Regions from separate parts of the Homo sapiens genome. Here regions 1 and 2 are each linked to region 3. Evidence: fine-mapped expression QTL. A gene starts in region 3. Each other region holds a variant in brackets. All regions are shown on one strand. Distances are between the middles of the regions.

Evidence for each region. PIP is the estimated chance that this variant, and not a neighbour inherited with it, causes the effect.
Region 1: its variant is fine-mapped to the expression of RBPJ in whole blood (INTERVAL, PIP 0.97).
Region 2: its variant is fine-mapped to the expression of RBPJ in whole blood (TOPMed, PIP above 0.99).

The regions. Positions count from the first base shown.
Region 1 is chr4:26,073,409-26,083,638 of GRCh38, forward strand. It overlaps LINC02357 (long intergenic non-protein coding RNA 2357), which reads left to right. Exons shown (of 3, transcript XR_925506.3): 2 at 7,042-7,182. Among named protein-coding and RNA genes, the nearest start is that of LINC02357, 7.8 kb to the left of the region's middle. RefSeq lists enhancers at 1,524-1,603, 7,792-7,971. The variant C/G (reference allele first, on the strand shown) is at 4,835.
Region 2 is chr4:26,269,617-26,279,846 of GRCh38, forward strand. LOC124900690 (a long non-coding RNA gene) reads right to left here and starts at 5,809. Exons shown (of 4, transcript XR_007058094.1): 1 at 5,544-5,809. It also overlaps a transcript of RBPJ not described here. The variant A/G (reference allele first, on the strand shown) is at 4,098.
Region 3 is chr4:26,315,736-26,325,965 of GRCh38, forward strand. It overlaps RBPJ (recombination signal binding protein for immunoglobulin kappa J region), which reads left to right and starts at 5,279. Exons shown (of 11, transcript NM_015874.6): 1 at 5,279-5,313. The coding sequence starts at 5,294. RefSeq lists enhancers at 3,313-3,362, 4,453-4,502, 5,735-6,656 and silencers at 3,583-3,852, 5,323-5,452, 5,523-5,622.

The DNA.
Region 1 (10,230 bases), 240 kb before region 3:
AGGAGTTCGAGAACAGCCTGGCCAACATGGTGAAACCCCGTCTCTACTAAATATACAAAAATTAGCCAGGTGTGGTGGCAGACGCCTGTAATCCCAGCTACTTGGGAGGCTGAGGCAGGAAAACCAATTGGACCCTGGTGGCTGAGGCTTCAGTGAGCCAAGATGATGCCATTGAGCTCCAGCCTGGGTGACAGAGTGAGACCCTGTCTCAAAAAAAAAAAAAAAAGAGGAAAGTGCTCTTTTCATGTTACAATCAGTTGCAGTCGATGTGAGGGGGTCCCACAACCAGTTCCAGAATTCTAGTGCAATGGCATTTATGGCAAACCTGTTTAAATTCTGGGTAAGGCTGAGATCCAGTACCAGCCACATTATAGTACCAGGGCCATTCTGCCTCCTGAACACTCAGGCCTGGCTTTGGAGCCCACCTCCCCACACAGGACCATTTCCTCAGTGTGAGTTCTTTCCCAACCCTTGTTGACTCTGTCTGCAAACTAAATTTTTAATATATCTGAGACAGAGATTGTGGACTTAAGTCAATATGTAAAGGGTATTGCCTATTGCCATGGGCCACCAGGAAACCCTGGGCCAGATCCTGCCTCATCAAGAGACCCTGTTGACACTGGAGGCTCAGAGAAGTTACCCATTTGAGGCTGGGGGTCCCGCAAGTCATAAGTGGTGGGGTCAAGATTTGAACTCATATCTCTGGGGCTCTTTCCAGTCCACTGTCTTGTTTTCTCCTCAAAGTGCAGCAAAGACAACAATTAGGTAAATGGAGGCCTTCCTACTTGAGGCTTTGTTAGCAAATTGAGGTTTTTCTGGCCTGGCCTGGGATTCCGGAAGTACAGGGGACAATTGTTTATGCTGCTGTTGGTGATTTCACATTTAGATGATGCAGACTGCTTGTTTTTCTTTCTTCATAGTACCTTTTCCCTCCCAAGCACTTAATCACCCAAAAGACGGAAACATCAAGGGTAGCCCATTTTTATACAATTCTGGAAAATGCTTGGGGCAGGTGGGAGGAAAGGGTGAAACGACTGGCAATGTGGTTTTATAGAAAGAGCGTGGGCATCAGAATCAGACAGTTCTGGGTTCAAATCTGGGTTTGTCGCTTCCTATTTGAGTAAACATTTAGAAGTTAAAGGTCTTCATCTGTAAAACAGAGACAATACCGTCTACCTCTCAGCGTTACATGAGAAACCTTATTTAAAATCATCAGTCTTGAAGAGGGCTCAATGACACTTAGTGTCCCTCACTTTGGCTGATCCTTTTTGGATTATATGAGAATTTTAGCTATCTATATTTTGCTATTCATTCCTCTTACAGACAACCCTCAAGTCAACTCAGAAGCAGGTCTTGTTTCCATGGAGATGTATTTAAGGTAAACAAATGTGAAAAGGGGAAGCACAGACGCCCATCCCCTACACCCACTCACGGCCAATGCACCATCTCAGCAGAAATGTTTCCAAAGAAATGTTTCACAAAGCTTTCGGGGAAGGCCAAGGGCTCTTTCACAGTCTTGACATGCTTTTTCATTGTACGGCTCTTGAAATGAACAATAATTCGAAACAGATAATAATGAACTTCACACAGCAATGGATCAAAAGTGGAATTACTGAGCTCAGCATTGTCTAGTATAATTAGGCTGACATGCTGCTGAATCCAAATGGATGGCTTTCCGACCCCCACTTTTGCATGTGCACATTTATTTGCAGAAGAACTTTTAATGGGCAGAATATTACAAGATTTCTGGACCCCATGTGGTTTCAGTTCTAATCCAAACAGCTTACTTTCTTCTGAAACTCTGATTTTCCTTCCTCGCTTTCTTCTTTTTTTTTCTTTTGGCATCACTATTTTGGAAATTTCAAAGGAGAATTGGTTCCTTGAATGTGCATGGAAATATAAGCACATAAATCACATGCTGAATTTACTTAACAAGGAGCAATAATCCCACTGTCACTTCCCACTGAACAATGCCTTTTTAGGAAAAAATGCTGCAAATCCTTTAGAAGTCCAAATCCGATGCATCCAATCAACTCACTTTTTTAAATTCCACAAAATAATTTCTCTGTTTTAAATAGCTTATTAAACACAACAGCAATCAGATAATAGATATTTCTTAATTAGACCTAGCTTTAGATCTCTCTTCAATCATGGCAGACAGCAGACTAGCTAGTCACTTTATAGGGCCATAAACATTCATTTCAAAGTCTAATAATAGAGTGGTTTCCTCTATTCTCCCTCTAACACAAGGGCCAATTTTTGTCGAGTGAAAATCAGCCCATGTCTTACACAAGACATCTGTCCTCAAGATGTGACACCTAAAATGATAAAGCAGAAATATATCACCAAAGCCAACAACTTATAAAATTATGGCTAACAAGACTAGACAATCTTGTTGTTGCATCAACCACAAAAAAGAAAGAGAAAGGGCATTTAATATAGCCTTTATTAGTCACTTTATTAGTCACTGGTACCTGTCTTGAATTTTCCAAAGGCTCTAACAGAAGAATTAACTTGGCCCATTTACAGAACCACAGGCAGAAGATTCTGCACTATCAGGGATATCCATAGTGGTAGCAAGAACGATTAGCAGAATGTCTAGATGTCCCTAAGCAGACAGATTAATGCCGCCATCCTCAAGGTAGGCTCTGAGCTGCTAGCTAGAATGATATAAGGAGCTCTGGTTAATACAGAGAGAAGGTCCCAGCCAATAATTACTAGCATTGCTGGCCCCATCCATCCACATTAGATCCAGAGCGGAGAATGAAGTTGAACCTTAGAATCCTTCCCATTGTCATGCAAACAAATCTGTTAGATGAGATCTTAGAAGCATTGAGCAGCCCCCAAACCATAGAACTGCCAACCTTAGAGGTGGAAAATTGTAGAAGAGGAAACTGCAGCTGAAGGTGGTGAAATGACTCGCCTAAGGTCACAGAGAAACCACACCACCCTTCACCACTTGTGACTTGAATGGAAATAGTCTTTTTCTGACCAAAAAAAAAAAAAAGAGTGAGTACACTGTGTGTCAGCAAATGTTATGCCACATGCAGCTAGATCATTGCCCAACAAAGGAAATGTGGATTCACAGAACTAGCTTCCTACTTTGAACACTATTTTTCCTGTAATCGGGTAAGGCTGGGGGCAAATTCTGGTCAAACCCTACAAAGATAAAGGGAAGCTCCATGTTTATAGATGCATGAACTGTAGGCCTAGTGAAGACTTCTCAATCATTTATCAATCCAGTATTGATTGGGGCATGCCCAACATGGGGCAGGTGTTTTGGAAAATATAGAAAAAGCGTAAGACATAGCCTTTTCCCTTAAGAAAAATTTAAACAATGTAGATGATTCTTAGAGATCAAGTGCAAAGATTAGATATTGATGATGATCCCAAAAGGCATTCAAAGATGGGAGAAATCGCAGGGTTTTTCACAAGTCAAGGATGGCTTGACCGACCTGAGATCTGTAAGGGACCTTGAAATCTGGATTGTGTAGAAGGATAGATGTAGGGGAGAGAAAACCTGGGGATATCTAAGCAGGAACAAAATTTCTGAGGTTGGAATTAATATGGCCCCAGAAAGTCTGGTCAAGACACCTAAGTGGCCTAGAAGTTGGTTTTAAGGGCACAGTGAAAAACAACACTGAACCCCGAGGGAAAGCCATAACAAGTGACTCACCAAATCATTTGGCCAAAGCAACACCAAACAAAGCTCAAGAGTCAGACCCATTTCCTTGAAGACTCGTCTCTCTGGTATGCTAAGAAAAATTAAATTTGCAATTTTCGGATGTACATATGCCAGAATTATCAAAATGTCGTGGATTCTCCTTCATATCATGACTAATATCCTCACCTCTGTACAAAATAGAAAGTTGGCCTGAGCTGTAAGAGGAAGGATTGCCCCTTTCTACCACCGCTCCCCAAGAGGAAATTGACTAAATAGTTTTGGAAGCCATTTCTAGACCCACAAGACCCTAATTCAAGAAAATAAGGTGTTGCCAAAGGTATTAAATATCCAAGAAACTATCCGAATACCTTTCTATGCTTTTGAACATTCCTTCTCTCTGACCTTAAACATGCGCTTAAATATATCAACTCCTTTCATCTGAAGGTGTGCCCGCACATGGCCTTTCTAATATTACCTCCAATTTGGGGGGGCAGAGGATAAACGGACAAGCTGAGGAATTATAGAGCCACCTAAATGGGAGGCTACTTCAAGGTTAAAACATGGCATGCCCAAACGCTTGCTGTACACAAAGGCTATTTATAATAGTTCTGATTTTAAACTTGGATTTATAATGAAGTTCAAGGCAGAAAGAGCAAAATTCCATACTGAAGAAAAATTACAGCTGGAAAAATCATTTGAAAAAAAAAAAGAAAAAAAAAAAAAACAAGAAAGCCTTCCAAGTGGTTACTCAATTTGGGAATTTAGAGAAGATGGCAGTTTGTGTCCAAGAAGAAACTACTTTTGGGGAAATGGAAGAGTGGAAAGTCTTGCCTTCAGTCTATTTTTGTAGCCCTGCCTCCAGCCATGCACATAACTGAGTCAAGGAAGGGCATTCCTCCCCACAGCTTCCAAAAAGGCGCATGTGAACAGAGGCACCTGGTCACACTATGGTGAGCCGAGTGCAAAAGCTTCAGGCAGCGAAGGGCAGTGGGAGGGGAGATATTAACTTGCCTCTGGCCTTTGGTGCCCAGCAAACCTGTGCCCTGCCTGCCTGTCCAGCCTGCCTGTGCCTCTCCAATCTGTGTTCCAGCATCTAGCTCCAGGTCACTCAGGAGTTGCGTGTGTTAGAGGGGGTGGGACAAGGTGATGTGATGGATAGAAACTCTCTTC[C/G]TCTTCCTCTCTTACTTTGTCTTAAGTGGGAAGGAGTTTTGGGCTTGCGGGGAATCGTTGCTCAGCATGCTTGCTTGTGCTCTGTAGGTTAAAGCGTTTAACTATAGGGTGGCAGGTGGTATCTATCTATGTACCCACTTCTTACCTCTCTCTAGCAGATGAGCCTCCAGAGCACAGCACTCATTTACTCTGAGCAAAGACTCAACTCCAGAATCCTTCCCAATCCAGCAGTCCAGGCTGTCATTACTAATCAGAATGGGCAAGTGGTTTGCAACTCATTTGCCAAGGTAGAGAAAAGAAGAGCAGGAAGAAAGAGGAAAGTAACATTTTCTGAGCACCAATCATATGCCAAATAGTGGCATGTCAAGCGGGTGGGGAAGTCAGCCTCGATGGGGAGGGGACAGGTTATCACTGGCATTGCATAGTGAATATAAAATGACTTCGATCATCTTTACACTGGGCTCAATACTCCATGGACAATGCACCCTCATTGCCACTCCCACTGTCCCCTCCGCCTTCCTGACTGCACCACCAGGACCAAGAACAGCTGGTGGCCCTTTCACAGGGCTTGCCTTTCCCAACAGCCTGGTGGTGTGGCAAGGACTTGGAACCATCCCTCTTATACTGTTAAATCCCCTGTTGAGGTCAGACTGTGCCTCAGTTTCCTCACTTGTAAAGTGAAGATAACAAAGCTGTACCTTTCCTAGAGGGCTGTAGTGAGGGCTAGTGCTTCTGCAATTGTGAGAGGGCACAAAACCTGGCATATAGGAAGAACTGTTAAATGTCAATTTTCCCTTAAGTTACCAGCTGAACTGGGCTGCCCCTACCTGAGTTTTAAGATCATTACAATAATAATAATAACCAATTGTAATATACCACATAGGATTGTCTGGTTTAGAAAAACAGACAGGATACTCAGTCAAATTTGAATTTCAGATAAGAAATGAGTAATTTTTAGTATGAGTATTTCCCAAACATTGCATGGAACATAGTTATACTAAAAATTTATTTATTTTTAATCTGAAATTCAAGTTTAACTGAGTGTCCTATATTTTATCTGGCAACACTAACATCAAATCTTAAGGTGTGTGGAATAAACAAAGGCATAACTCTTTGGAAATAAAAATGTCACACTGAAAGAAATGTTTCTCCAAATTGATTTTCAAACTTTTTCCAGCCACATTCCACAGCAAGAAATACATTTTGCATCACAGTGCAATACACACAAATGTGTATTAACTGAAATCAACATTTTACAAAACCTTTTTTGTGTACAGTATATTCTGATATTTTGTCTCCTTCATTCTACTTTATCTTATTTCTTTTTAAAAAAATTCTTTGTCCAGTATCACTTAACTGATTTCATGACCCCCTTAATTGAGGGGTCAACAAATTATGGCCCAGGGCTAAATCTAACTAACCACCTCTTTTTGTAAGGCTTGTAAGCTAAAAATGTTTTTTACATTTTTGGCCAGGCGCGGTGGCTCACACTTGCAATCCCAGCACTTTGGGAGGCGAAGGTGGGCAGATTGCATTAAAACCAGGAGTTTGAGACCAGCCTGGCCAACATGGCGAAACCTTGTCTCTAGTAAAAAGAGAAAAATTAGCTGGGCATGGTGGCACATGCCTATAGTCCCAGCTACTCTGCAGGCTGAGGCAGGAGTTGCTTGAACCTAGGAGGCAGAGGTTGCAGTGAATTGAGATCACACCACTGCACTCCATACAACTTTTTGAGACTCTGTCTCAAAAAATAAAATAAAAAAGATAAGATAAAAGTTAAAAAGATAAGATTAAAAATTTTCTACATTTTTAAGTGGTTGGAAGAAATCAAAAGGAGAATGATATCTCATGACTGGTGAAAATTATATGAAATTCACATTTTAGTATTCATAAATAGTTTAATTACAGGACAGACACGCTCACTTGTTTACCCATTGTCTTTGATCATTTTCGCACTACAGTGGCAGAGTTGAGCAGTTGCGAGTTGAGAGTTGCGTGTTGAGTACAGCCCACAAAACCTAAAATATTTACAATTTGTGCCCTTACTGAAAAAAAATTGCCTACCCCTACCCTAAAGGGTTGCAATTTGCAGTTTGAAACGCTCTGTTCTAAATGGTTTTGCCCCAAAAGGATTCATTTCTATTCATGTGAGTGAGCAGTTTTTTTAACAATGTCAAGTTAACCTTACTCTTCTTATTTCCTCATAGGATAAAGACAGAGGAACAAATACCAGACCAGCAAACTTACCTGAATCCAGCTGCCCTCAGAGTATGGCTGAGGCTTGGTCAAAGCCCAGAACTTAGCAAGGGTTAGAGGACATCATGGGACCATATTCCCAGTCACTCCAGGTATCCACTACTCACAGGGAAGGGAGGGATTATGAAGAACACAGAACAAATGTCAAGTTCTTGACTTTGAATCATTTAGGCTCTTGACTCTTATTACAGAGATTGGGTGGGTCCTCCATAGCCAAGGTTTGTGATAGAAAAGTGTGATCAAATCTAAAGGCTAAGCCCCACGTAAGCACGACATAAAAGTTTATACTACAAACAAGAGAATGGAAAGAGAGGAAAGGATGGTTGCTCTAGCTAGGGAAAGAGGAGAAGGGAAGAAGAAGATGCTGACATAGCCCTGAGGGGTCCTGCACTTTGCCTGCTCCCTCGTCTTGTGATTTTCTGAAGTGGGGTAGCGGGTGATAAATCATCAAGATAGGTTTAGTAATGCCAAGACCTGAGAATGTGTGCCCTGATCTACGGGAGACGCCTGGAGTTAGGGGAGAACAGCACAGATACATACCGAGATCATCAAGGGCCCTGAGGGCCAAATGCAGCATGCCACTTCCTTTTGTAAGTGAAGTTTTATTGGAACACAGCCATGCCCGTTCATTTATCTATTGCCTGTGGCAGCGTTTGTGCTACAGTAACAGAGTGGAGTACTCATCTAAAATACGTGCTGTCTGGCCCTTTACAGGGCATAGTTTGCCATCCCCTGCGTTGTATGCTGGCCATAGTGGAGAAGAGAGCGCAACAGAGCAAAGCAGTGGGGAGGCCCCAGGAAAGCCCCCGATCTGTCACAGCCAGGCCCATGTAAGAGAGCATCCTAAAGTTTCCCTTGCTCCTGCCTCCAAAATGGGCACAAAATGGCCAAAAGAGGGCCGCAGACCTGAGCAGAGCTTGAGGTTGGGACAAGAAGATACAGTGGAGATGGAGGGCTTTCTAACAATGGAGGACTTGGCAGCCTCCAAGTATGGCCCCTGGGTGCCACTACGCATAGGTGCTGATGGCCAAAGACCAGGTCTGCTTCAGGCTAAGGATGCCTGTGGACCATACCACCCCATCCCTCTCTCAGTCCCCCAGAACCCCGTTTTCTACACCTACACCATCCTATATTTCCAGGATCTTACCAGCAACCCCAAGAAGAAGGGAAGGGCATGAAATTTTGAATTGAGTGACTGAAACCGGCATGACTGCATAAACACTGAAGTGAGTGATTTTTACCAGGAAGACACTATATATTAAGTTTCCTGCCACTAGAAGAATGTAGACTTAAACTAGAAATTAGGTTATAGAAAAATGAAGAGGTTTACATTCTACATAGCCGATAGGAAGAACAGGAAACTGACTTTGTTGCTGCAGGAAATTGGAACTTCATTCACAGCAATTCTGAGACCACAGAAGTTGAAGTCCTTATGGTTCATGACTCAATGACTCCATACCTACTCATTTTTCTACCGACTTCTTTCTAGAATAAGACAGTTTAAAGCAGTCCAAATCTTCCGGAGATTTTTCCCATTCTACCTGCAACTCCATAAAAGGAATCCTGTACAAGTCTAAATTTTCACCAGTAGGTGGTGCTAACACAAACACTACACTGTACTTATCTGAGGATGAATTAGCCAGACACTAATTAAAGCTCTCTGCATTAGCACTTTTCTCTACAGCGCCTTCCCTCTGGTCTAATTGAACTTTGTTATTAAGCAGTCCCTGAGTGGTTTCACCTCAGGGCTAACACTCTCTCTCTGGAGTGGTATAATGGAAAGAATTCCAGCATTAGGAAACATGGGGTATGGATTTTGGCTGTCTTACTAATTAGATGAATTCGCCAAGTCACTTAATCTCTCTGAGTCTTAGGATCTTCATTTTTAAAATAAGTGAGTTGGGTTTGTGGGATGCTTGTTTTCCAGGTTTGAGAAACAATTCCACAACCGCTCTTCTCCCATCAAGCTAATACATTTTGAGGAAAAACTCAAGATTTCAAGAAATAGGCTCTCGGACACAATTCTGTGGGGGAGGTAAGAAGTCTGTGGCACAGACTTTCTGTCAGGCAATTTGGCAATGTATAGCGGCAGTCCTAAAAATGTATGTACCTCTTGACCACGAATTCCATATCTGGGAATTCATCTCAAATAAATAATTACAGGCATGTGCAGATATGGAGCCAAGAGAACACTCTATAATGCAGTGCATGTTGACTTTGTTGAGAGCTCAGTGTATCTTCGCTAACCAGTTTCTGAACTTCAGATAATCCTTAGAACTATATTATAATCCTTGTATAAGGCAACAAAGCAAACTATTGCTTAATCATACAATGAAAGGAAGAAGTAATGAACGTATTTTGTGTGCCACACACCAAGCCAGACACTTTTCTTAAGTTCTTTCTTTAAATATTCTTACAATAACCCTATGGCGAAAAGGTATTATTAATTCTATTTTATAGCTAGGGAGTCCAACACTCAGACCAGTTAACCTTCTTGATCAAAGTCACCCAGTGCTGATTACTGGGAGAAGAATTGCATCTTCTACTTTACAAAGATCAAGTTCTCTGAGGGCTTGGGGAAAGCTTTCCCTGTCATGGAAGTAAGAGGAGGGAAATTCAGTAGGTGAACTTTGATTCTGCCTCAGAATTGGATCTGGGCTCTTGGGCGTCTTTGAGGAAGAACTGCAATTTCAAAGCTTCTGCCAATTCTTTGTGCTGCTAAAAATGGAAACCCAAATTAGTCTGTGGGGGCCCCGCTTTCTGGTGGAGAAAACGTTCTTAATTGAGCTTTTATTTGTGCAAAAGGAAATTCCGTTCTGGGATGGGAAAGCCTAGACAAGGAAACACTCAAGCTCTGTGTCTACCAAAGTAAAAGAGTGAGGATTGTACCGATGTTAATGGATTTGGGGCTTCCACTGGTAGACAGAGGGAAGAGGCTGTGGGGGCACGGCATTCAGGGAAAGAGAAACACAGTCAATGCAAACCCCGGTGTGGAGGTAAAGACGGCATAGGAGCACACCTGGCAATGTGCTGGGAGCCTGAAGGTGAAGGAAGACCAGTAGGAATTGGGTGGGATGAGATTTGACCCAAGGACTTGGGGTATGGTTGGTCATGGCTGACACTGAGCTTCATTTTTCCCT
Region 2 (10,230 bases), 46 kb before region 3:
CTCCCCCACCGGACTTCACCTGCTCAAAGACAGGGACTCTGTCTCAATTCATTCTTACAGCCTCAGCCCTTTAAGCTTTAGTGGAAGCTCATTAAATGGCTTCTTGAACTAAAACTAAGGAAAAGGAGGAAGCGGTGAGCGGGTATGGGCAGAATAATTTGAGGGAAGGGAGTGAAGGGGGAGGGAGAGGGGTAGAATGACAGAGAAAAGAGTCAAAACTGGCAACCCAAATTACTTTGAGGCCAAACTAGCATTTATTTTTAGAAAGGACCCAGGCCTCAGTAAAAAGCAACACACTTAGGAAAGAGTTAATGAAACATTGTGGAAGAATCTGGCTTATAGGGTAAACTGGTGTTCCTCGCCATGGGAAATTGCTGGTATGGGGCCAGGCACGGCGGCTCAGACCTGTAATCTCAGCACTTTGGGAGGCTGAGGCAGGCGGATCACCTGAGGTAAGGAGTTCAAGACCAGTCCGGGCAACATGGCAAAACCTCACCTCTACTAACAATACAAAGCTTACCCAGGTGTGGTGGCAGTCACCTGTAATTCCAGCTACTTGGGAGGCTGAGGCAAGAGAATCGCTTGACCAGGGAGGCAGAGGTTGCAGTGAGCCAAGAAATCGTACCACTGCTCTCCAGCCTGGGCAACAGAGCAAGATTTTGTCGGAAAGGAAAGGGAAGGGAAGGGGAGGGGAGGAGGGGAGGGGAGGAGAGGGGAGGGGAGGGAGGGAGAGAGCAAGAGAAAGAAAGAAAGAAAGAAAGAAAGAAAGAAAGAAAGAAAGAAAGAAAGAAAGAAAGAAAGAAAGAAAGAAAGAAAGAAAGAAGAAAGAAAGAAAGAAAGAAAAGAAAAGGAAAGAAAGATGAAAGGAGGGAGGAAGGAAGGAAGGAAGGAAGGAGAAATCGGTAGTACACTGGTTACAATGCCAACTCCTGTCTCCACCCTGGACAACTGACTCAGAATCTTTGGGGTTGGGAACCTCCAAAAGTTTTTATTAAGTATCGCAGGCACTAGAGCTTGAAAACCATCCATGTAGTCCTTCCTAGGTGTACTTCATCCCCCTTGATCTACCCAGGTCCAGTTAGCATGGAGGGTTTTTTGGAAGGGGAGGGAGAACTTTCCCTCTACCCTCTGAAGGTTTGATAATTGAGTCTATGATGTAAACTGACAGTAGACAGCTTGACAAGAGACAAGATATACAAATTTATTACATGCACAGGGGTGTCACATGAAAGAAACATGAATAAAATCCGCCTCCCCCCCACCCTTATCCACAGTTTTGCTTTCCTCTGTCTCAGTCACCCACGGTCAACCATGGTTCGAAAATAGGTGAGTACAGTACAATAAGACATTTTGAGGAGAAAAAAACCATATTCATACAACTTTTATACAGTATATTATTCTAATTATTCTATTTTGTTATTAATTATTGTTAAATCTCTTTCTGTGCCTAATTTATTTTTTAAATTTGCTTTAGAGATGGGGTCTCACTATGTTTCCCAGGCTGGTCTCAAACTCCCAGGCTCAAGCTCTCCTCCTGGCCCAGCCTCCCAAGTAGCTGGAACTACAGATGCATGCCACCTTGCCCAGCCTAATTTATAAATTAAACTTTATCATAGGTATGCATGTATAGGAAACATCAGACTATAAGGTTTGGTGCCATCTTTGATTTCAGGCATCCACTGGAGGGCTTGAGACTTATCACCCATAGATAAGGAGGGGACTACTGTACCTCAAAACCTGGTGGATCTAGAGTCTTATATTCCCTCTTCATAAAGGAGAGGGGAGGGGAGATGTAGGTAACTCAGGAGAGATTGATTTGGGGGAAAGATGAACAGGACCTCAGAAGAATAGGTGACAGCCTGTGGCAAAGTCTGTCTGGCTATGGTGTCGAACTCCAGTCTCCTCTCCTGTGATCCCAGTTAATCTTCTCTGCTTGATGAAATTCCCCAGGAGGGGATTCATGACAACTGAGTTCTTTTTAGAGGATCCATCAGTAGGCAGATAGGGAGTTCTGAGAAAGCCTCTGCCTGCATATGCTATGTCCCAGGTGTCCTCAGTTCAAAGTAATCAGCATACCAAAGTGTCATTTTGGGGATGATATTTCCTGAATTCCTTTATCTTCATCTAAGACCTCGCCTTCTATGTGAAAGCCAGATTTATCAACTTTGAAAGACCCATGAGTCTTCAACATACAAACTATGATGTCCTTTCATTCATTCTGCACAGTGTCACTGCCACACACACACGTGCATGCACACGTGTGAGCAACCACATACAGAGACACGTGCGTGCTTGAACATGTGCACAGTGGGCACAGGTATATAGGCACATGGGTGCATACATGCTTGTACCAGCTTCCAGATTTCTGTAGGGCCAGTGCCTTGGGTCACTTGCTTTGTCTCTTAAAAATGTCTCCTGACTAGGGCAGCCTTAACCAGGACTGGGTTGGGAATATTAGGTATAAGAATCAATAGGGAAAAAAGCTTTTAGGGCAAAAATGCTTTGGATAAAATTCCAAAGGTTTAAATTTCACACCTTTGACAGAAGTCAAAGGTCTAGATAAAACCTAGATATATGCAGGAAAGAAAAAGATCTTCTAGATAAAACTGAGATATTTGCAAGAAAGAAAAAATGAAGACGTCATTTTTATTTTCTAAAACTCACTACAGGCCGGGCATTGTGGCTCACACCCATAAGCCCAACATTTGGGAGATCAAGGCAAGAGGATCACTTTAGGCTGGGAGTTGGAGACCAGCCTGGGCAATGTAGTGAGACTCCATCTGTACAAAAAAAATTTTTTTTTAATTAGTCAGGTGTGGTGACACATGCCTGTAGTCCCAGCTACTTGGGAGGCTGAAGTGGGAGGATCACTTGAGACCAGAAGTTCAAGGCTGCAATGAGCTGTGATCATGCCACTTCACTCCAGCCTGGGTGACAGAGCAAGACCCTGTCTATCTCTACAATAAATAAAATAAATAAAAAATAAATAAAAAACAAAACTACAGATTTGGTTGCAGATGAACTTGCATTTTGTCTTCATTTTTTCCAAAGTGATTCATTCTTCCTGGTTCTTGAACACCTGCTTAAAAATAGGGCTTACTTTTCTCTGTCCTTGGGGTGCACCAACCATATTTGAAACCATGAGGTAGGTCTAACACCAGGAAGGGGGTGATGGGATGGAGGAAAGTCCTATTGGATCTGCATAATGTACTCATTGTTTAAAACCATACATTGCGCAGAAAGCTGTGGTTAGATTTGTGGTGTGAAACAGGGAACTCTGCAACTCTCAAGCAAGAGTTTCCATGCCTAAGGTGAATGTTTACATTACAGACGCTGGAATCCCTGTTAATACCTTAGGTGCTTTTTTTTCATGAAGACTGTATTAAGTTTGAGATTTTCTTTCACTCCAAGTTTTTCAAAACAACAGACCATAAAAAGGAAGTTTCAACCAACAAAATTGACTTGAAATAAAAATTGGCCTGTGTGTCCCAAGTTTACTCATTTGCAGGACTACCTTTTGCTGTCTCCCACTTCCCTTCCTCTCATTGCCTCAGCCTCTTTTTTAAGTTCCTAGTCAGTTAAGGCACATTTCCTGATTTGGCAAACACCACCCCTCCACCTCCTTTTTCTTGGGTAAAACTTCCTGAGCTGACATTAAAGAGAACTGTTACCTCACCCGAGAGCTTTAGGAGGAAAATGGCATTTAGGTTTTATTACATAAAGCCCCACAGTAGTTACCACTTTATAAAATTCAAATGACTTTTTTCCAAGCTCCCAGTTTTCCAAAGCTGTCTGCCTGGCGACCTCCCAGAGGGCGAGATGCCTCCGAGGGAGCGTGGAGCGGGCCTCCCGGCCTTGGCAGGCAGCTAGGATGAAGATCTTTCCAGCTCTAGCTGCCTGGAAGGAAACTGGCAGCAGAGAGCAGTATCTATGTCCGAGGCCATTCTGGAATCTAAGAGGAGGGCACAGATTCCAATGGCTCAGGGAAGAACCACTCTGTATCCCACTTGCACCTAGGGGTACTAATCTTTCTGCAGAAGAACCTAGCAGCGGGGCCTGGGAGCTCTTTTCACTCAACTGCCTCCCTCCCCTCCTCC[A/G]CTTTCAGGAAGAAGTGGGGAAGTGGGAGGTCTGTTTGCATCACTGGTAACCACAGCCATTCCCGGTGCCCCTTGCCGCCACCCTTCCAGTGCTTGGTATGCCAACGGTTCTTCCCTCTTCTTCTTTGAAGCTGAACGCAGCCAAGACACAGTCATCGCCATTTGCATCTTCCTGGGAATCCGATTAGGCCCGGCTTTACTTCTCCTGGAGGTGTCTGTGTCTTCTCTGGTGTAGAGGAAAAAAAGTTTGTTCTTCTTCCATTCCCCTGCTGCCTATGGGTCTTTGCTCAGATGTCACCTTGTCAGAGAAGTCTTTCCCAACCACAGGTGTGGCCTCAACCCCAGATATATGCTTTTCTACTTCTCTGCTTTATTGTTCTCCATAACACTTCTCACCTCCTAAAATACTTTGTACATGTGTTATATTTTACTGCTTCATTTGATTTTCTGCCTATCTTCTGCCATCTGCCCCATGCTCACACCCACACCCTGCATCCCGAGCACCCACAACAGTGCCACATACATAGTAGGCGCTCGATAAGTATTTGTTAAATAATGAATGGATTTGAGACTTTCTGAAACCCTAAGGAAGATAAGAGAAGGTATGATTTTTGATTAAGAAAAATGTTTCTGGCCAGACACGGTGGCTCACCCTTGTAATCACAGCAGTCCAAGAGGCTGAGGCAGGAGGACTGCGTGATCCCAGGAGTTCAAGACCAGCATGGGCAACACGGCAAAACCCTGTCTCTACATAAATTTTTTTAAAAATTAGCCTGGCACAGTGGCATGTGCCTATGTTCTCAGCTACTCAGGAGGCTGAATGGGAGGATCCCTTGAGCCCAGAAGTTTGAGGTGGCAGTGAGCTGTGGTCATGCCACCGCATTCCAGCCTGGGTGATAGAGCGAGCGAGACCCTGTCTCTCAAAAAAAAAGAAGAAGAAGGCTGGGCACAGTGGCTCACACCTGTAATCCCAGCTCTTCGGGAGGCTGAGGCTGGTGGATCACATGAGACCAGGAGTTCAAGACCAGCCTGCTCAACATGGCAAAACCTCGTCTATCGAAAACACAAAAATTAGCCAGGGGTGGTGGTGCACATTTGTGATCCCAGCTATTCGGAAGGCTAAAGCAGGAGAATTGCTTGAACCCAGGAGGCGGAGGTTGCAGTGAGCTGAGATCACGCCATTGCATGATCCTAGCCTGGGTGACAGAGCGAGACACCGTCTCAAAAAAACAAAAAAAGAAAAGAAAAGAAAAAAGAAAGGAAAGGAAAAAAGTTTCTAAAGTACCAGGGCTAGAGGAAGGGATTAGAAGCCATAAAGGAAGATAGCATTCATGGGATAGGGAGATGGCCACATTGTCAACTAATATTTGTAATAGACTAGTGAGATGTCATCGTCCCTATTTCATAAATGAAGCAACTGAGGCACAGAGCATTTGCATAACTTACCCAAGGTCACACAGAGGGAAAGTGAGAGACGGCATCAAGGTGTGGAACCGTGCTCTTTTCACTGCTGTCCCCTGACTTCTGCTTAGACCAAAGCCTGGTAATTTGACATCCTCAGCAGAATCAGATGCATAAGCCCCAGATTCAAATCGCAGCTCTGCCACTTGCTGGCAGGGTGACTCTAGGCAAGGTTCTGGGCTCCTATGGGTAACTGTTTTCCTAGGAAGATAATGAAAAGGGAGGACCTAGCATGCTATGAGTCTACTTATGCCTCCCAACAGGCCAGTGGGGCAGGAAGGGAACAAGTATTACTAACACCGGAAAAAGAAATTAAAACCCAGGGGGACTATGTGACTCGGGTGTGGCTAAGCAACATGTCAAGTCAGTCGCCGGAGAAAAACCATCCAGGAAAGAGGTATCTTGACATAACACAACTGTCAACTTCTCTCCAAATCATAGGTTTTTTGTTTTGTTTTGTTTTGTTTTGTTTTTTGAGACGGAGTCTCGTACTGTTGCCAGGCTGGAGTGCAGTAGCGCGATCTCGGCTCACTGCAACCTCCGCCTCTTGGGTTCAAGCGATTTTCCTGCCTCAGCCTTGCGAGTAGCTGGGACTACAGGCGTGCACCACCACACCCAGCTACTTTTTTGTATTTTTAGTAGAGACGGGGTTTCACCATCTTGGCCGGGATGGTCTGGATCTCTTGACCTCTCTGCCCACCTCGGCCTCCCAAAGTGCTGGGATTACAGGCGTGAGCCACCGCAACCGGCCCAAATCATAGTTTTTATGGCTGAAAAAGGATACTTAGTGACATGCTAACAGCTTTAAAGCTATTGTAGGCTGGGCGTGGTGGCTCACGCCTGTAATCCCAGCACTTTGGGAGGCCTAGGTGGGTGGATCACTTCAGGTCAGGAGTTTGAGACCAGCCTGGCCAACATGGTGAAACCGCATCTCTACTAAAAATACAAAAATTAGCCGAGCATGGTGGCACATGCCTGTAGTCCCAGCTACTTGGGAGGCTGAGGCAGGAGAATCACTTGAACCCAGGAGGCGGAGGCTGCAGTGGGCCAAGATTGTGCATGCAATCCAGCTTGGGTGACAGAGCAAGACTCCATCTCAAAAAAAAAAAAAAAAGAAAAAGAAAACATAAAATAAATACATAAAGCTGTTGTAAATTTTAAGTTTCTACTTTTAAGGTCTCTGATTTTAAAAACACTTCCCTATGGTAACTAAAACAAAGCTTCAGAAATTGTGGATGTTAGATGAGATCTGGGTTTTTGCTTGGGCAAGGCTTGGTGGTTGTGACGTTGCATGCTACATGTCCCAATGAAATCGCCTCCTTGAAAAAAACACAATCCACAGAAATCTATTGAAATGCAATCTATGGAAAATCTAACATGGCCTTGGGCCTCAGGCTTGTTCTTCCATTGCTGTCAACACAGTGAAATTCTGTCCCTGTTGATTACTCTTCTGTTTCCATGGGCTTGCTGATTAAATGCTATATGTATAACACTTTGAATCATTTAAATGAGAAAGAAAAAAAATCCTTCTCTTTTCTTCACCATGACATTAGAGCTACAGGAGTGACTGTCTGATATTAACTGAGCACATACTATGTTAAGAAAGCAACCTTAAATAAGCAAACTCAAATTGTATCTTTGAAGAAATTCTTCTTTCTGTCTGTTTCCTTTGTAGCAAGGGCGGAGTCAAAAACTGCCTTTCTTCTTCAACCTGTGAAATCAGATTTAAATGTATTTATGTATTTATTCTGGCTAGATGATATTCTCTTTGCTGGCACGGAATAAACTAGTCATAGAATTTTCTGTAAGTGAAAAACCTGGCTGGGTGCAGGAGAATCACGCTCGCCTATAATCCCAGAGCTTTTTGAAGCTGAGGTGGGAGGATTGCTTGAGGCCAGGAGTGGGGACCAGCCTGGGCAACATAGTGAGACCCCATTTCTAAAAAAAAAAAAAAAAATTTAAATTAGCCAGGCATGCTGGTATGAAGACTTAGAAGGCTGAAGCAGGAAGATGCTTGAGCCCACGAGTTCAAGGCTTCAGTGAGCTGTGATCACACCACTGCATTTCAGCCTGGGCGACAGAGCAAGACCCTGTTTGTTCAAAAAAAAAAAAAAAGTCAAAAGTCAAAAAAGCTGAACTTGAAAAAATTTGGTTCTGATCCCTCTCTGTAATGCTAGCACTCATGAAAAATTCAGCATTTGTGGAATTCCTTAGTTTATGATTTAGGAATCTCCACCTGGCTCCTCACCCCCACCAGATACAAGCCTCTCTCTTCTCTTGGGACCAGGACGAGGCTGCAAGCCTGAGCGCCACAGGGCTGGGTTCTTCAATGCATGGCCTTGGTGAGTTATCCTGGGGAGTTTTGTAGGGAAAGTGCCAACCCGGCCAAGCTATAGGTGCCCAGGAAAGCCCTGATTTGTGAGTGGATGGTGTGTTGGACACACAATCTCGAAGGAGTGGCAGGGGCCTATTCATTTCCTTTGCAGGATTTAAAACTAAGATGGCAGTGATGGAGGAACAGATGGCAAGTGTTAGTCAGAGGGAGAGACTTAGTATGCTCATATGGGCTCAAATTTTTTCATGAGAGAAATGCTCTCCTGACCCTCTCTAGCCCCAAAAGTCCAGAGGAAGAATTTTGCAAGCATGATTAGTGTTTTTAAATGTATTACTCTCTCCCATAGGTTTCTATCGGGCTTTAAAATATTCGATTCAGTGTCCATCTAATCTTTACAAGTTATTTTCACATGTGTCAATCAATGCCTTTTTTCCAAGTTGCTGCTTATTCCTCATGTATATGTGTGTGTTTGTGTGTGTGTCTTGCCTTCTAAGCTAGCTCCTTTGCTGAATATTTATTGAGCACCTATTATGTGCCAAGGACAGTATATAGTAGTATGAACGCAAATGCCGTGGCATTGACATTCTGATTAGGAACTCTTCGCTGATTCTGCTCCTTTACCTTCTCTGTGCTGCCTTTGCTTCCCAGTTACTTTATAACATATACTTCATATTCATCTTCAATTTTTCATCTAAAGATAGGATGCTACATAACATTTTCAAAAAAGTAAAGTCACGTCTGTCATGAAGATATAAAGTGAACCTATGCCAAAGATTTTAATTTATTAATTTATGAGGGATCCAGAAAAAATGTTAAAACCAATTCAAAGGACAATTTGAAAAACAGATATATATGTAGGCAATCTGGAATGTTGCAATGAATTTACTAATAGGTACAAAATTGGCTGATATCTGATAGAAAAAATATGTAGTGTTTTGGGTCATTTACTGGGTAGAAATCAATTGCATTACTATCAGATAAAATTGATGTGCATATTCAAAACAAGAATCATTTGAATAACTATGGACAGGACACATCTGCATTGCTATCGGTTTTCTACAACTTAACTTCTACACCTATAGGATTATGAAATAGACTAATCAATCCAAGATAATCAAAAGTTTCTATTCCTATAGAAGCAGATAATTCCCAGACTATCTCCTAAGACACTCAGGGACTCTACTGAAATAACACTCAAAAATCTCTTTTGCCCCTTTACAAGTCTTTATAATTTTCCTGACAGGGGCTTTACAAGGAGAAAATTAAGCTCAACTCTTGTCAGTTTCTAGCAGATTTGAAGTAACAATGATTAGTCCGTTTTAAAAATAGCTTTTGGTGGGAGTTCCACTTACATGATATCTGGCAGGCATCAGGAAGTTTGGCTATGGGATGGATATATAAGGTTCTAAGGAGGCCACAGTGCCTGGTGGCTAAGGGTGCTGCCGTGGGAGCAGGGTGGTTGTGCTCCTGTATGATCTTAGCTTTCTCTGCACAATTTCCTCCTTTCTAAAGTGGAGAAAATAACAGTAGCTATTTCATAGGATCATGTTGAGAACTAAATAAGATAATACACATGAAGCACCCAGCACAGTGCCTGGCCCACAGTATGTACTCAATAAATGTTAACTATTTGTTTGAAGAAAATGTCTGTTACAGGTGGTAGTTTCAAATGAATACCAGTAAATTCAATCCAGTTGGGCAGAAGAGAGGATGATGCTGTGAGCCTAGCCACTTATAGAAAAGGGCAAGTTTTGCTGCACTGGCTGCTGTTTGATATTTTCTTTTTTTTGGAGACAGAGTCTTGCTCTGTCACCACGCTGGAGTGCAGTGGCACAATCTCAGCTCACTGCAACCTCCGCCTCCCAGGTTCAAGCAATTCTCCTGTCTCAGCCCCCCGAGTAGTTGGGACTACAAGCGTGCCCCACCACGCCCAGCTAATTTTTGTATTTTTAGAGACGGGCTTTCATCATGTTGGCCACGATGGTCTCAATCTCTTGACCTCGTGATCCACCCGCCTCGGCCTCCCAAAGCGTTGGGATTAAAGGCGTGAGCCACCACGCCCGGCCTGTTTGATATTTTCAATGTTTACACAAATTCCCGTGGTTGCTTACATTTGCTTTTAATGTAGGATGATTCTAAGACCAGTCCAGACAAGCGGTGACGAATTTCAGTAAAACTTCCTAAGAAGATGGCAGGTTTTTGCATGCCACAATTAAAACTTCTCATTTCAGGCAGAGGGAGGTAAAAAGGTTTTTGTGAGTGAAGTTGAAATTGTCTTTTTTTTTTTTTTTTTTTTGAAACAAGGTCTTGTTTTGTCGCCCAGGCTGGAGTGCAGTG
Region 3 (10,230 bases):
TTATTTCAACCACATAAGACAGACACTCCCAGAGCAGCCGTTTATAGACCTCCCCCCAGGAATGCAATTCTTTTCCCAGAGTATTGATTATCAATATTCCTTGCTAGGAAAAAAATTTAGTAATATCTCTCCTACTTGCAAGTCCATTTATAGGCTCTCTGCAAGAAGAAAAATATGGCTTTTTTTGCCCCACCCCGCAGGCAGTCAGACCTTATGGTTGTCTTCCCTTGTTCCCTAAAATCGTTGTTATTCCGTTCTTTTTCAAGGTGCACTGATTTCATATTGTTCAAACACACGTTTTACAATCAATTTGTACAACAGTGGTCCTGAGGTGACGTACATCCTCAGCTTATGAAGATAACAGGATTAAGAGATTAAAGTAAGACAGGCATAAGAAATTATAAGAGTATTATTAGGGAAGTGATAAATGTCCATGAAATCTTCACAATTTATCTTCCTCTGCAGTGGCTCCAACCAGTCTCTCCGTTCAGGGTCCCTGACTTCCCGCAACATATATATATATATATATTCATATATATACACATTCATATATACATATACACATATATACATTCATATATACATATTCATATATATACATTCATATATACATATTCATATATACATTCATATATACATTCATATATATACATTCATATATACATTCATATATATACATTCATATATACATTCATATATACATTCATATACATTCATATATACATTCATATATACATTCATATATACATATTCATATATATATTCATATATATTCATATATATTCATATATATATTCATATATATATTCATGTATATATTCATATATATACACATTCATATATATACATTCATATATATAATATATATATACACATATTGATATATATATACACATATTGATATATATATACACATATTGATATATATATATATACACATATATATATATACACATATTGTGTATATATATATATACACACACACACATATCCGGCTAGTGGTGTTTTTGTTGTTTTTTTCCTGAAGTTCTAAAATGGAGAGTAAAGGAAACTCTTAAGTGCAGCCTCATCTACTGGTCTAACCCAGACGACTTTTTTTTTTTTTTTTTTTTTTTTTTTGCAAAAAACCAACACAGGTGGTTGCTCCATATGCCTTTTTCTCCTCCCTAGGCAGGCTAGTACTCACTGCTAGTCTAGTCCTAATATTGTTTTGAACCCTAGGAGGCTTAGTCTTCAGAATCATTTTTACTCTGCCCTAAAGTGGAAGACACCCCATTCATTCTACAAATATAATACAGCAGGCATTGTTCCAGCAGCTAAGGCTTGAATAATGAACAAACTAGACAAAAGTCCTTGCCCTTATTAATATTACATTATAATGGAAGGAGGCAGATAGTAAACACAACACACAAGTATGATAAATGTTATGTTAGTTAATGATAGGTGCCATGGACAAAATCAAGCAGAAAGGGGGATAAGGAGTATGGGAGTCCCTCTTGGGAAGGGTGTCAGGGAAGGCCTCCCTGAGGAGGTGACATCAGGCAAAGACAAGAAAGGAGTGAGGGAATGAGCTATAAGGTATATGAGGGAAGAGCATTCCAGGTAGTGGAAAAAGCAAAGGCTTGGAGCTGAAAGTGTGCTTGGGGCATCCCAGGAACAGTAAGGAAGGCAACTGGTGAGAGCCCACAGAGTGAGAGGTAGAGGAGGAGGTGAAGGCAGATAGATCAGGGGGGGTTTGGCAGTAGGCAAGATTGTCTAAGTCCTCATAGTGAAATGGGAAAGTCATGGAGGAGTTCTAGAGGGCCACTGAGAATGCTCTATTAGCACAGACTGCGGGAAGACAAGAACGGAAGAAGGGAGGACCAGTTAGGGAACTTCCTTAAACCAGGTGGGAAATAAGATGGGTTAGACTAGGCTAGTAGCTAAAGAGGTGTGACAGTATTTGGAATGTGAGTATATTCTGAAGGTGGAGCCAATAGGATTTTCCGTCCAATTGTATCTTGGGTGTGAGAAAGGAGGCAAGGACTCCAAGGTTCTTGACATAAGTGGAAGAATGGAGTTGTCCTTTCCTGAGATGGGGGAGGGCTGCAGATGGAGCATGTTTTAGGGCAAAAAGGGGGAGCTGTTATTCCCTTTGTGGTTACCATGGCTTCCCAAGGTCGCTGGGGCTCTCAGAAGGCCATGATTCCAAATTAGATCAGTGGTCTGGACTAGGCCATGACTGAAATACCTTCTTGGGATGACAGCTCCAAGGAATATGTGCCCCAAGGGCTTTGTCCTCCTCCTGAGCTATCCTGTTCCAAGCCAGACTTGCACTGAGATATTGCACCAAATGGTTTTAAGTCTGTTTTTTTGTGTATATAATCAATAGGCAAACACAAACACACACACACGCACACACACACACACACACACCCCTAAAACCTTGAAAACAACTTAAAAACCAGGGTTTCCTATTAGAGAACTCACTGTCCTCCAAATATCAAAATTCAATTCAACTCTACATTTGCGGGGCTGTGACGTGAGCAGGAAGACACTGGTTCCTAGATAATGCCAGGCTAAGGCTGGTATAGAAACCACATCAGGGCCAATCTGAAACGTGGCTGATTGAAGAATTTACGTAATCAGGAACTCATTGGATGAATGATCCAAAAGGAAGGGCTGCATTTAAAACAGTAGTCACTATAGCACCTGCCGCAGCCATACGTAAAATGGAATATTGCAATAAAAATACGGAAAGGTGACGGAAAGCAAAAAAGCCATATTAGTGGGAGGAAAAAACAGAAACTGATTTGTAAGATTACTTCAAAAGGCTAAGAAGAGACTGACAAGAAATTTTAAAAATCGTGTCCTTAAACGGGAGCAAGAATCTATACAAGGCAACAAGGCGAGAGCGCAGAGCTGTTTATTTATTTATTTATTTATTTTTCTACCCAGCTCACAGGGCCAGCGGGTAGATTAGAAAGAAAACAACCAATTGCTGCCAGGCGCGGTGGCTCACACGTGTAATCCCAGCACTTTGGGAGGCCGAGGCGGGCGGATCACGAGGTCAGGAGATCGAGACCATCCTGACTAACATGGTAAAACTCCGTCTACTAAAAAATAGAAAAAATTAGCCGGGCGTGGTGGCGGGCGCCTGTAGTTCCAGCTACTCAGGAGGCTGCGGCAGGAGAATGGCGTGAATCCAGGAGGCGGAGCTTGCAGTGAGCCGAGATCGCGCCACTGCACTCTAGCCTAGGCGACAGAGCAAGACTCCGTCTCAAAAAAAAAAAAAAAAAAAAAAAAAGAAACCAATTGCTAAAGTAGAGTAGCTAAGGAATCAGAACTTGTTTCAAAGTAAGCGAAGTAGTGGCCAGACTAGGTGACTCAAGGCATGACTCAAACCCGACTCTGGAGGCTGTCTGTCAGCTCCCGGAGGCGGGGGGCGCGGTGTCTAACACGTTTTAGGAAAGTACCAGGCTTGTGGAGGGCGACAGGAAACCTCCCCGGGAGATCGGCCTGGGGCTCCTCCTGCCCTAGAGCCTGACCTCTCACTCTCCGTACCGGCAGCGACTTCCAACCTCCTGGCTTCCCCTTCCTCCGTTCGAGGCTCCCCACCCCTCGTCTTCCATCCAGCGTCACAGGGCGTGTGCGTGTTGTGTGCGAGACGCGGGTCTCCTCCCCCGCCGCCCTCCGCCCCGTGCTCCCAGCCACGCGCCTTCCCGCCCCGCCTCCGCGGCAAGCCGCTCCCTTCCCACCCCGCCCGCGCCCGCCGCCCGCCGCCCGCCTCCCGGGCACGCGCTGCACGAACGGCGCCCGGAGCTGGTCTAGGCAAACACCTGTCCTGCCTTGGCTCCGCGAGATTTGGGGCGAAAGCTTAGGCAACAGGGGCACGTTCTCGCGAGGTTTAGGAAATTTCCCACGGCCGTGTTGTGTCTGAGCCGAGTAGTGGAAGGCGGTGGGAAGGAGGTGTAGCGTGAGACTGGACTGCCCGCATTGGGTACATGCGCAGTGCCGCTCGCGCGGGCCGCGCCAATCCTGCAGCGCCTTCAACAGGTTTCGGGCGGCGAATTCCAGTTCTCCGGGTTTTGGGGCTCCCTGCGGGAGGCAGTGCTGGATCTGGGAATCTCTAGGAAAGGAAAGAGCAAAGGAGGGGAAAGATGGGGGGCTGCAGGTAGGAGGAGGGGGCGGGATTCGGGCCCTTCACCCTGCTGTTCCATGCCCGGTGGGGCCAGGTTTGCCCGGGGGCTTCCGGGATCAGGCCGCCTGAAGCGCGATTCGGGCAGCCGGCAGCGTCCTCGGCTGTGCCAGGCCCTCGGGTGGCCCGGTTCCCTGTGCAGTAGTGGTCTCAACACACACCTGGGCTCACACACGGTGGTGGCTGCGATGGGGTCTTAGAGAGGCCATGCAGCACGCGAGCGGCAAGAGCTTTGATCGGGTCCTCTGGGCAGACTCGGAGGTGGGAGAATGTGGCTCTCAATTCCAAGGCAGTTTTCCCTTCTGGAGAGAACTACTCCGCGCTCTGGCGTGTGTCTGCGAGGTGGCCATTAGGGGTGTCTTTGCTAGAGGCCTTGGCTTGACCTCATTTCACACCCAAGGAGAACGCTAAGGCGAGAGAGCTCAACTGCAAAAGTTTTCCGCTTGAGGAGCTCTGGAAGGGCCTCCTCATTAGCATGGGGGGGTGTAATGAATGAAGACAGTCCCCGACGTGTCACTTGCCCGAACCCCAGACATCTCTGGCGCTCCTGCACCAAACGCCGAGATTAGCATAAAGGAGGCGCCCAGGGAACGTTTGAATGAATGAAAATAGCTGGGAACCCAGAGTGAGCGGGAAGCCGCTTGGAAAACACCCATTGAGGAGGTGTTTCATCTAGGCCTGTGAAACGCAGCCCATTTTCCCAGGACCCCTCCTCCCTTCTCCTCGGCCCCGCCTCCTGACCCCTCCATTCCTCGTCCCCGTAGTAATCCCCTCCGGTTTTCCTCAGTCTCCACGTACGTCCCTCAAAGCGCGTCCTAAAACCCGGATAACCGGAGCGCTCCCCATGGACCACACGGAGGGCTCGCCCGCGGAGGAGCCGCCTGCGCATGCTCCATCGCCTGGGTAGGTTTCCAGGGAAGGCAGCGAGCAGGATCCCCTACTCTGCGGGCGGCGCGAGGCGTCTGGCTCTTCGCGGCGGCGGCGAGGGGAAAGGGAGCGCGGGGGCTGGGTGGAATCGAGGAGTGAGGAAAAAGGGAAGGGGCGGGGGAGAGGGACCAGGGAAGGCGTCGGGGGGAATCTCGCGAGGGTTGGAGTTTTGGCGAGAGTTTGTGGAAGATGGCGCCTGTTGTGACAGGGTAAGTCTGAGGGAATCGGAGCGCCGGGAACCGGGAAAGTTGCGGGCGTCTGGCAGCTCACGGCGGGCAGCGGGTTCGGGGGCCGCGGCGCGCTTGGCGTTCGGGGGCCCGCGGGGGCGGCGTCGCGTGCGCCGAGCGCGGCGGCGGCGGCGTGTGGCCGTGCGCTGCCGCTCTGCGCTGCCGTGGCTCAGGCTCCAGCGCGTGAGGGCGGGCGGCGGCGGCGGCGGCGAGGCCGGCGGGTGCGGGCGTGAGTGCGGCAGGGCGCGCGGGGCCCTCGGGCGCCGTGCCTCCCGCGCGCCTCCAGCGGGCTCTGCCTGGGGGCCCCGTGCATCTTTGTTCCTCGCGGCCGTTGTCGCCGCTTCGCCCCGCTAGTGCCCCCGGCCCCGGGCGCTTTGTCTTTCACCGCTACCCGCTGCGACTCTCTACCCCCGGCCCTTTGTTTCGCCGCCTTGGGCGCTTTGTCCGACCCGTGGCGTCCCGCATCCCCTCTCCATCTCCTCCCCTCCGCTGTCCTTCCTCCCGTGCCCCTTTGTTGTGCCACACTCTTGTCGTTAGCCCAGTGACCTGCCACAGCCCGGGCACCAGATTTCTGCCTTAATTGTTCTTCCATTGTCTTTCTCCTGTGGGTCCCCTCTCACCTTTCTGTATGGTCCTGGATCACCCCCCGAGGCTTTGTCTCCCCCATCCACGGGCTTATTCTCTCGGCACCCCCTTCCTCTCCCGTCATCGGTTGATTTATCCACAACCCACGGTGTACGTCTGCTGAACTGTCTCAGCCCCGGGGACTCCATCTGCTGCTTCTAAGTGCACACAAGACTCTACGGTTTGTTGTTTTGTGGGTCTGAAAGATGCATGGGATACTTAGTTTTCTCCTCCGCACCTCTTTTTCTCGGGATTTCTTGTACCCTCCCGCCCCCCTATCGCCACCCCTTTCTCTCGGGATTAAAGCGTCTCCAATTTTCATCGCCGTCTTTTTAGTGCCGTGGGTTGTTTTGCTTGGAAACAGTAGCCTTGGAAAAAGATCTGGTCTCTTGGTGGTTCTTGCGCCCCCCGGCCCCCGCCCCCCTCCTGGTTCCTGACGGCGTAGGCCAAGGGCAGCTGTCTGTCGAAGCTTTGCAATCTAGGCTGCCTGAGGATGATTGGAGGGTATCGTAGGACGGTTAGAAGGAGGCTCAAGATGTATATATGTGTTTTTCTGTTAGTGTTTGAGAATAGTTTCAGATAGCCACAATGGATATTCATTTGGCGTGTGAGTAGGAGTTGAGTGAATTTCCATGTTAAAAACTTGTGAGTGTTGGGGCGGAGAATTTCAGCATTTTCTAGAAATCTGGATTTAGAATTTATCAGTAACTTCTGCCTCATAAGGAAAAGGAGAGGCATTCCGCTTGGGAATTTTATATAAATGTTTTATTTTTTCTTAATCATTAGATAGTTTACAGTTATGTGCTTTTTGCTGCCCTGTAGATGCGTGACAACCCTTCTGTCCCATCATTGGGGTTGAAATGAGGACAGCACCGAAGAGTGCAGTTTCTGGTCGATGAATACTGCTTCTAAGATCTTTGTGGAAGATATTAATCAAATGCAGTTAAAAAGTATACGTATAATATGTATATTATATATATATATACACACACACACGTAATAGCCTGTAGTGAGATTATTTTAAAGACACTTCCTAGTGTTAAAGAACCCTTGAAGTGTTTCGAGTTCTTATTGTTTTGGTAATGCTAAAAGCTTGGGGTTGTGTGAATGGGGGTGGGGGGTGTGGTGTGATGTATTCTAATGACTTGAGTTATTCTGGGTGCTAGGAATAAGAGTTATTATATTTACCAGGATTACTATGCTGAAGGTATTCTTCAAGAGTTTGTTTTTTTTCTACTGGTTGATCTCTACTTTTAGAAGGTATGTTACCCATAAAATCATTTGGAGTGTCATTTCATTTACAAACTGAAGTTCTACAATAGTGAAGTGTTGTTGATAGGGGACATACGAGATCTACTCTAACGAGTATTGGAGCATTGGAAAATACTTTTTTTTCTGGCTGTGATTAGAATTAGTAGTTTGAGTTTTAATTAATGGAAAACCATGTTTTCATGATTGATACATAAGTTTTTTTGTGAAAATCTGCAGTCTGGGTCGCTTGAGTGGGTTTTACCAATAATCTTATGTCTCCCTTACTTGTTCTTGTACATAATCATTGTTTTGAAGGTAAAATCTTGAGCTCACTGGTTCTCTGACTGGGAGCAAAGTGTAAATACTGTGTAGTAATGGAAGGTATTTTGCTCTGACTTGTACCTGTAAGAATGATTACACAGACATGATAAAAGCGCTTTTACCATTTGAGTTGCGTTTTTCTTTCTAAATCGTGTAATACTTTTACTTACATGATTGGTGAAATAAAACTGCTTTTAATTAAATTATAACAGCAGCATATTTCGAAATCTGGATGCGTTGTGGCTGGAGAACTTTCATTCTGAGTATTAACTGTTAAAGCTTTAAATTTTATTATCCATGCATATTGCTGATGGATCTGTGAGTATATTTTCAGAAAACAGGAGACTTGCAATATTTTCAAATCTGTACTAATACACACTTGTAGGCATTAGATTTTAAGCAGTTAGGTTTGTTAAAAAGTTATCTGTTGTCCTATACCAACAGATTTCTATCAATGTTTTTTTTAAGTGGGTAAGATCAAAATTGGTTTGGTTGACAGGCCATTCTTGCCAGATGTAATTCATTAAATAACCTTTGGCACCCTTGATGGGTAAGGCATTAGGAAAAAATTGTTTCGTTTGAAAGTTATTATACATCTCATTCTTCTGTTCATTTTTAGAAATAAGACCCAGGACTTGGCTTTAAAGCATTATTTTGCATTTTGCTTCCTCCTAATACTAAATTTCATGTTATCTCAACTAGGGGCAGTATTTTCTCATGGATTGACTAAAAGTTGTTATTTTTGGCATCTGGCTTTGTGATTATTTCCAAGTTACTCTACTTCCCCTGGGCCAGTTTCCTAACTATGTAGTAAAATGGGAATTATAATAACTTGCCACATCTGCACAGGATTGCTGTGCCTTAAGATTCGCAGAGAGCATCCTTGGATGAAAACTGTGGGGAAGGTCTAGGAATTGTTACTGAAATAAGCTAATGTGAAGTAGGTCATATTTTATAGGAAGTCAAATAGGAGGTTTTTAAGTTCTTGGCAAGACACAGTAGCGATAGTGGGATTTTTTAAAATCCCAAATATGTATTATAATATGGGTAATAAAACAGATACCTTTATTCCTGCCCCCCATAAACTTATAGGGAAAGGGACAAATAAAACAAATTACAGGGTGATGTGTCGTGTGTGAGTGTGTGTGTGTGTGTGTGTGTGTGGTGTAAGAGATTGAAGTTCTGTCAAACTCAAATGTAATAACATTATAAAATTATGGGATGCCTTTCCTCTTTTGTTTTCTGCATGTAGCAATATTCTATTTATTTATTTTATTTTATTTTTTGAGACAGGGTCTCACTCTGTGGCCAGGCTGGAGTTCAGTGGCACAATCTTAGCTCACTGCAACCTCCACCTCCTGGGTTCAAGCGATCCTCGTGCCTTAGCCTCCTGAGTAGCTGGGATTACCAGCGTACACCATCATACCTGGCTAATTTTGTATTTTTAGTAGACATGGGGTTTCGCCATGTTGGCCAGGCTGATCTCAAACTCCTGACCTCAAGGGATCTGCCCACCTTGGCCTCCCAAAGTACTGGGATTACAGGGGTGAGCCACCATGCCTGGCCTGCATGTAGTAATATTTAACAAATGGTAGTACAACATGCTTTCACTGGACTCTAAGCCAAGTCTGTTAATAGCAGTGATTAATTTTAAATATGCCTTATATTTTTTAGTGCTTTGTTATTTGCTCTTAAGAATAAATTCTAATAACCATGACTATAATTTCAGATTTGACTCTTGGCCTTAGAAAAGTGTTTTGCATTTGAGGAGCACTCTGTAGATACGTATTGACTGAATGAAACCTGTTGCTTCTCTGTTCTTGGTAGATGATACCATATTCCGTTTGGTTCCCAAAGCCACGATTCCTAATTCCTCTCTCACCAGCCTTTACATTTAATTACTGAGAACTGATCATTTTTCCTTCTAAAAAATCTCTTGAATTTGTTTCCCTTATCCTCACTGCCGAAGTTCATGCTGTCATTTCTCACCTGGTTTACTATGACGTACTGACAGCCTCTTTCTGCTTCTAGAGTCACCACCTTTATCCAGCTTCTACATGTAGCAGAGCAGTCTTTCTAAAGAGCAAATCTGATCACTGCTTAATCTAAAAACCTTTCAATGGCTCCCCCTAGCAGCGTTCATTAAGAGAGGCAACAGAGTGGAGGGTTATGAGCTCACATTTAGTGTTTAATCTGAACTGGGTTCCAATTCTGTCTCTGGCACTTAAAACCCCTGCCAGTTAAAACCCCTGTAACATTGACAAGTTAATCTCTTTATCAATTGCAAGATAATTATTCCTAACTCAGAAAGTTGTTGTGAAGATTAAATGAGATAATGTATGAAAGCATTTAGCAGAATTCCTGGCATGTAGCAAGTGCTCAAAAGATGTTAGCTACTGTGGCGCATAGGATCCTCCATAACTATTTCATCTGTCTCTTCTCCAGCTGAGTTGTTTGCCATTTTCTCTCCATAATCAGTGCTTCAGTCATATTAAAGTATTTTGACATCTCTGCATGAGCCCAGCAGTTTAATGCGTTCTTGTGTATGAAAAGTAATGATCCTTAGTAGGTTATTTCTCAAGACTAAGGGAATATTCTAACCAGATCTACCAGACTACAGTTGGTGCCTGGCTGTATAAATACTGTATATTTAATACAGTATTAAATGCTGTATATAATTCTCTTGGAAGCATGATACTAAGT